Regions from separate parts of the Homo sapiens genome. Here region 1 is reported to be linked to region 2. The links are microRNA targets in miRTarBase. Many come from high-throughput screens and were not tested one by one. Region 2 holds a microRNA gene; the other region holds the end of a gene's coding sequence.

The links. The annotated mature microRNA hsa-miR-718 reads CUUCCGCCCCGCCGGGCGUCG and lies in region 2 at 2,536-2,556, shown strand. An mRNA with a match to its seed (bases 2 to 7 or 8) in the 3' UTR can be bound and repressed. Matches are read on the target gene's strand: a 7mer-m8 pairs with bases 2 to 8, a 7mer-A1 pairs with bases 2 to 7 and ends in A, and an 8mer does both.
Region 1: the mRNA of HOXB8 is a reported target of hsa-miR-718. Seed matches in the 3' UTR shown: 7mer-m8 at 1,785-1,791.

What each region holds. Positions count from the first base shown.
Region 1 is chr17:48,610,595-48,613,594 of GRCh38, forward strand. It overlaps HOXB8 (homeobox B8), which reads right to left. Exons shown (of 2, transcript NM_024016.4): 2 at 1,752-2,915. The coding sequence ends at 2,608. HOXB7 (homeobox B7) reads right to left here and starts at 423. Exons shown (of 2, transcript NM_004502.4): 1 at 1-423. The coding sequence starts at 324. RefSeq lists enhancers at 1-115, 116-935, 936-1,756 and a silencer at 1,550-1,599.
Region 2 is chrX:154,018,981-154,022,483 of GRCh38, reverse strand. MIR718 (microRNA 718) reads left to right here and starts at 2,495; the gene lies at 2,495-2,564. IRAK1 (interleukin 1 receptor associated kinase 1) reads left to right here and starts at 2,582. Exons shown (of 14, transcript NM_001569.4): 1 at 2,582-2,807; 2 at 2,886-3,053; 3 at 3,156-3,287; 4 at 3,406-3,503. The coding sequence starts at 2,672. MECP2 (methyl-CpG binding protein 2) reads left to right here. Exons shown (of 3, transcript NM_001110792.2): 3 at 1-911. RefSeq lists enhancers at 1,463-1,532, 1,648-2,617 and silencers at 2,303-2,682, 3,033-3,132, 3,143-3,212.

The sequences.
Region 1 (3,000 bases), not on the chromosome of region 2:
CGCCGCCTTGGCGGAGTCGCCGGGACACACCCCGGAGAGGTTCTGCTCAAAGGGCGCGCAGTGCATGTTGAAGGAACTCGGCTCGAGCCCATAGCCGGCCGCGTAGACGCCGGCCGCGCTCTGGCCCGCCATGCCCCCCCCGCCGGGGTACAAGCCCTGCATCGAGGCGGCGAAGGAAGCGCCCGAACCCGCTCCATAGCCCGGGCGCTGGGGGTTGGAAGCAAACGCACAAGAAGTTTGTTCTGGGAAGGCTCCGGTAGCGAAAACCGAACTTGAGGCTGGATATTTAGAAAATAAAGTATTCGCATAATACAATGAACTCATAATTTGGCCGGATGATTTGTAGGCAGGGACGTTTTAGTGTCGGTTTTACGAGATTCCTTGATATATTACAGAATTAGAGTCCAGATTTACACCAAAAAGGACCCCCTTTTTCCTCTCCGGACCACGTGACCCCGCCCACGTGACGTCCCCTCCGCCAATGGCCGGGCCGTCTCCCCACGGCTCCCGGTAATGTGGAAAAAATTGTGTGGCGTTGGATTTATAAAATATGATCAATAATGAATGGGAAAGCCGAGCCCTGTGGATTGGGGCTGGGGGCTCAAGGGCCGCTGCCGACTCCCGCGGGCTGGAGGCCGCTTGCAGGCGAGATTTGGGGAGGAAGAGATTGAGTGGAAGGGAAAATAAATAACCTCGGGGCGATCCGTGTCACCCTCCACCCATCCTCTTCAGCCCGTTACCGAGCGAGAGACAAACGCAGGGATTGAATGCACGCAACTGGGTGGGTGGGTGCTTGGGGCAGGTCTGTTCTTTATTAAACCAGGCCAATTCTGCACGGCAAGGCCTTTTGGGGAAGTTGGTCCGGTTCTCCCAAGACGAGGAATGAGGCGAGCCTGGCTCACGACTCTGTCTCTCTTGGTGCCCCAGATATGCGGGCGGAGATGGAGCAAGTCTTCCTAGGTGCTCCTAGGGCACAGGATCCAGCCCACGGGCCTTGGACGCTGCCGTTTCTGGTGGCAAAAAAAAAAAGAAAGAAAGAAAGAAAAAGAAAAAAAAAGGTTTGAAAGTAAAAGAAAAAGGGGGTTGGGAGGGTGGGGAGAGAAAGGAAGGGTGGAGGTTGGCCCGGGCGCGCTGCTCTCCCGGTTCCCGGAGGCGGATGCCTCAGTGGAGCGTGACTACCAGAGAAGCAGAGGCAGCGAAGGAAGGAAGGCAGAGAGCCATGGCCTCAGAACAGAGCGAAGGTGGCCAAGTCCCTGAGAGGGAGAGGCAGGGAAGAGCGGTCTCCCTTCTCCTCCTGCTCCCCCAACAACAACAGTCCGAGGGAAAAAAAGTATGCTCAGCAGGCCTGCACTCCACCTTTATGCCTGCCCCCCACCCCACCTCCCGACACACATCTTGGGAGGACACACAGCAAAACAAAGAGGGAGGTGGCGGGGGACACAGCCACCAGCCCAGCCGCAGGTCTCCAGCGTGGCCTGGGCGCCCTGGCCTCCCTGGCCGGGCAGCCTCGGAACGCGAGAGGAGGGGGTTTCTCTTGGCTCCCCTCCCTCGTTTTTCTCTCCTCCAATCAGGCTCAGCCGCCTCCCTCACCCCCAGCGCCCCTGGGCCGAGGGACTCGCACCACCTGCCTCCAGCCCCCGCCCCCTCCTCTCTGCAGCCTAGCCTCAGCAGGCGCAGGAGCCCGGTGACAGGCTCCCCACCGGCTCTGCAAGGCACCCGGGAGCAAATGAGGAGCGCTGGCCGGGCCAGTCTCGGGTTCTCGCTTGTAAACTTTATTGTAACTCTTCCGCCCTTTTCAGGCGCAGACAACAGAACAAAGTATAGAGGAACAACAAAATATATAATTAGCCCTCCCTCCCCCCCATAAAGCAATTCACGGATACAGAATACATTCTCTTCACAGTAAACCTAAGAACACTTGTAACAATTGCCCACAGCGCGCATGCTAACTAAAGTAACCTCTTTTGAGAAACACTTAAGACAAAATTGTCAAACCAAAGGGGGTGGGTGGAGGAGGAAAAGAGAGAAGCCAGAGAGAAAGCCAGCGAGCTGGGGGGTTGCAGAGGGGAGAGAGGATTGGGAGGGGAAATGAGGACGCAGCGAGAGAGAGCGAGAGCGAGAGCGAGCGAGCGAGAGAGAGAGAGAGAAGGGAGACAGAAAGAATTACGGCGTGAATAGGCAGTTTCATGTTGTTGGGAGAACTTAGCAGAAATCGGTACCTTGGTCATTACAAAGAAGCACGTTCAAAGGAAAAAAAAGACAATTGCACAAGGAGGCTTTTTACACGGGGAGGGGAGGGGCATGGGGGGCTCAGCCGGGCCTTTGCCGCTCGCCCTCACAGGGCGAGGGAGCCTTTGCTTAAATCCTTTTCTTTCCCCCCGGCCCCCAAGAGAAGGGAAGGAGATCCACGGTAGCTCACACACAGAAGCTATTACGAGATACTACCACTAGCGGGGACTGGCGCGGCGGGGGACGCTGCGGTGGGAGGCCCGGCTCCTGGCCCCGCTAGCGGGGCCAGAGCTCTCTCGGGCAGGGGCGCGCGGCGGCGGCGCGGCCGGGACCCGCGGACGTGCGGGCGGCCGCGGCCCTGGCAGTCCCAGCTGAAGCCTACTTCTTGTCGCCCTTCTGCGCGTCGCCCTCGTCCGCCGCCTCTGGGGCCCGCTCCAGCTTCTGTTTCTCCAGCTCCTCCTGCTCGCATTTGCTGCTGGGGAACTTGTCTTTGTTGTTCTCTTTTTTCCACTTCATCCTCCGGTTCTGGAACCAGATTTTGACCTGTCTCTCTGTCAGTCCCAGGGCGTGCGATACCTCGATTCGCCGCTTACGAGTCAGATAGGGATTAAATAGGAACTCCTTCTCCAGCTCCAGGGTCTGGTAGCGGCTGTAGGTCTGTCGGCCTCGCCTGCGTCCGGCGGCTGCTGGGAATGGGGGAAAGGGCGAGACAGAGGGGAGGGGAGGGTGGGGGAGGGGGCAGGGACGGAGAAGGTTGGAAGATTCGTGAAC
Region 2 (3,503 bases):
TCCCATTCCATGGCGAAAACATCTCCTTAGAAAAGCCATTACCCTCATTAGGCATGGTTTTGGGCTCCCAAAACACCTGACAGCCCCTCCCTCCTCTGAGAGGCGGAGAGTGCTGACTGTAGTGACCATTGCATGCCGGGTGCAGCATCTGGAAGAGCTAGGCAGGGTGTCTGCCCCCTCCTGAGTTGAAGTCATGCTCCCCTGTGCCAGCCCAGAGGCCGAGAGCTATGGACAGCATTGCCAGTAACACAGGCCACCCTGTGCAGAAGGGAGCTGGCTCCAGCCTGGAAACCTGTCTGAGGTTGGGAGAGGTGCACTTGGGGCACAGGGAGAGGCCGGGACACACTTAGCTGGAGATGTCTCTAAAAGCCCTGTATCGTATTCACCTTCAGTTTTTGTGTTTTGGGACAATTACTTTAGAAAATAAGTAGGTCGTTTTAAAAACAAAAATTATTGATTGCTTTTTTGTAGTGTTCAGAAAAAAGGTTCTTTGTGTATAGCCAAATGACTGAAAGCACTGATATATTTAAAAACAAAAGGCAATTTATTAAGGAAATTTGTACCATTTCAGTAAACCTGTCTGAATGTACCTGTATACGTTTCAAAAACACCCCCCCCCCACTGAATCCCTGTAACCTATTTATTATATAAAGAGTTTGCCTTATAAATTTACATAAAAATGTCCGTTTGTGTCTTTTGTTGTAAAAATCAAGTGATTTTTTCATAAGGTTCTTTTACTATTGGAAAAGATGGGCAGCACGCAGTTTTATTTTATTTTTGTAAGTTTTTTAATACATGTGAAAGCAAAGAATACTCAGCATGCCTTTCTAAGTGACGCGTTTGCACCTTTTGTTGGGAAGTACTGTATCCTGTGCTGTTAGCATTCTCGATAAATCTCTCTGTGAAAGTGACTCAAGGTCTGGGCTTTCATTATAAGACAGAAGTCCCCCTCCAGCTCACATGACAGCATGGTGCTGCGTTTCCTCATTGGATCTGGCTGTCCCTGGACACAGGTAGCTGCCTTCAGGCCTGCCACGAGCGGCCAAGGGAAGCCTCCTCCATATGCTGGCCTCGCTGGCCCCTCAGCTTCTTCCAAGCCAGTGCTCTCCAGGCACACTGCTCCAGCGTGTGACGGGAAGGGCCTGGCATGAGTCAGCCTGCAGCACAACCTCCCTGCTCCAGACCCGTATGGTAGGGGCACCCCCTAGGTCTGGATGTGCTGTGGTGCTTTTGGACACCCCCACCCCCGCAGGCTGTGGCTCCTCCTGTGTCTCATTCTGGCCAGGACCCTCACGTGCCCTCTGTTGACTGCTAACGTGGTTCTCTGACCAGGCAAGGGCAGGCTGAGGGGTTTGCCCAAAGGGGGCCCCCTTGTTACTGGCTTCCTTGGCTCTCAGGAGCAGCCTCACCAGGTTGGTAAGGGGCTGGAGGAGACAACTGCTCAAAGGAGTCCAGCTTCACATGCACATGCTAGAAGGTACCCTCGGAAGGCCTGGCCTTCAAAGGTAGATCCCAGGGTTGAAAAGTCAACTTGTATGCATTGAGCATCTCGTATGCCAGCCCTGTTCCGTGAGCTGATGGGCCTTTGTGTGTAAGTAGGACCAAGTGCCCCCGTGGAGGTTAGCATGGGTGTGCAGTCATTTCAGATACTTGAGTTGGTACATCTCAGTAAAGTCTGTCCCGTGAGAAGCCATGGGTTTCATGGTATGGTTGGCATCTTCCTTGGGAGTGGCCACAGTGGTGGTGGCTTCAGGAAAGAGACTCCAACAGGGGCCAGCTGTGGGCCTTGGGCACTTCTCGTTTCTAGGAAAAGTCCTAAGTCTGTAGGGCTAGGGGTGGGGAACCCCTTCGCTGTCAGGATCAAGAGGGCAAGGGGAACTGTCGCTGGAGGAGACATCCAGCTGGAGAAACAAAAGAGTAAGTCTGCGTTGCTGCTTGTGGGGTCTTCCCCATCTCAGGGCGGGGACCGGGGGTGGCGGTCCAGACAAGTAATCAAGGACGATGCCCAGGAGGGGACAGGTACGGGGTGGCAGGAGCTCTGCCGGCGGGCTCAGGAAGCCTTCACCACAGCTGCCTGAGCTCACCCTTGCCAAATGAGGGCTGGGGCAGCAGCAACGCATACACTCACGGCTGTGGCGGGCAGCGTTCTCGGCATATTTCAGGACACCTAAGGAGACTGAATGGCTCAAGGCTGCTGCCGTGTGCAGGGGGCTAGACGTGGGGCGGGCAGGCAGGGCTCCTGGTAACAGCCCTGCAGGCCGCAGTGGAGAGCAGGGTTCCGGCAGGGCCGCCCAGGAGCTTTCGGAAGGCCCGGCCCCGGCCCCTTTCCGAGCAGCCCGGGCCTCCGCCCTGCCCTCTGTCCCCAACGCCGGGAGCCGCCGTTCGTCCTCCAGAGCCCCGCCCGGGCGAGCCCGGGAGGCCGATCGCCGCTCGCGGAACCCGCCGGGACCCGGGCCCTCCCCGGCGCGGGGCGCCCCCGTGTGACCCAGCGCGCGGCCGCGGCGCGCAAGATGGCGGCGGGCCCGGGCACCGCCCCTTCCGCCCCGCCGGGCGTCGCACGAGGCCGGCTCGAAGGGGAAGTGAGTCAGTGTCCGCGGACCCGGCCGGCCCAGGCCCGCGCCCGCCGCGGCCCTGAGAGGCCCCGGCAGGTCCCGGCCCGGCGGCGGCAGCCATGGCCGGGGGGCCGGGCCCGGGGGAGCCCGCAGCCCCCGGCGCCCAGCACTTCTTGTACGAGGTGCCGCCCTGGGTCATGTGCCGCTTCTACAAAGTGATGGACGCCCTGGAGCCCGCCGACTGGTGCCAGTTCGGTGGGTGGCGGCGGGCTGCCGGGGGGCGGGAGGCGCGCGGGCTCCTGGCGCCGACGCCTGACGCCCCCCGCCCCGCAGCCGCCCTGATCGTGCGCGACCAGACCGAGCTGCGGCTGTGCGAGCGCTCCGGGCAGCGCACGGCCAGCGTCCTGTGGCCCTGGATCAACCGCAACGCCCGTGTGGCCGACCTCGTGCACATCCTCACGCACCTGCAGCTGCTCCGTGCGCGGGACATCATCACAGCCTGTGAGCGCGGGACTCCGGGCACCCCACGGCTGGGAGGCCGGCGGGCCCCACGGGGCTCCCCCACCCGGGCCTCAACCTTCCTTTCCTTCCTTGGCGTCCCAGGGCACCCTCCCGCCCCGCTTCCGTCCCCAGGCACCACTGCCCCGAGGCCCAGCAGCATCCCTGCACCCGCCGAGGCCGAGGCCTGGAGCCCCCGGAAGTTGCCATCCTCAGCCTCCACCTTCCTCTCCCCAGGTAAGAGGGCCCGGTTGTTAGGCTCGGTGGACCCAAAGAAGAGCCCACCTTGACCACGGCCACGGCTGTAGACCCTGCTGCTGGTCTCTGCCTGCCTCTCACTGGTGTCTTTATGAAGCTTTTCCAGGCTCCCAGACCCATTCAGGGCCTGAGCTCGGCCTGGTCCCAAGCCCTGCTTCCCTGTGGCCTCCACCGCCATCTCCAGCCCCTTCTTCT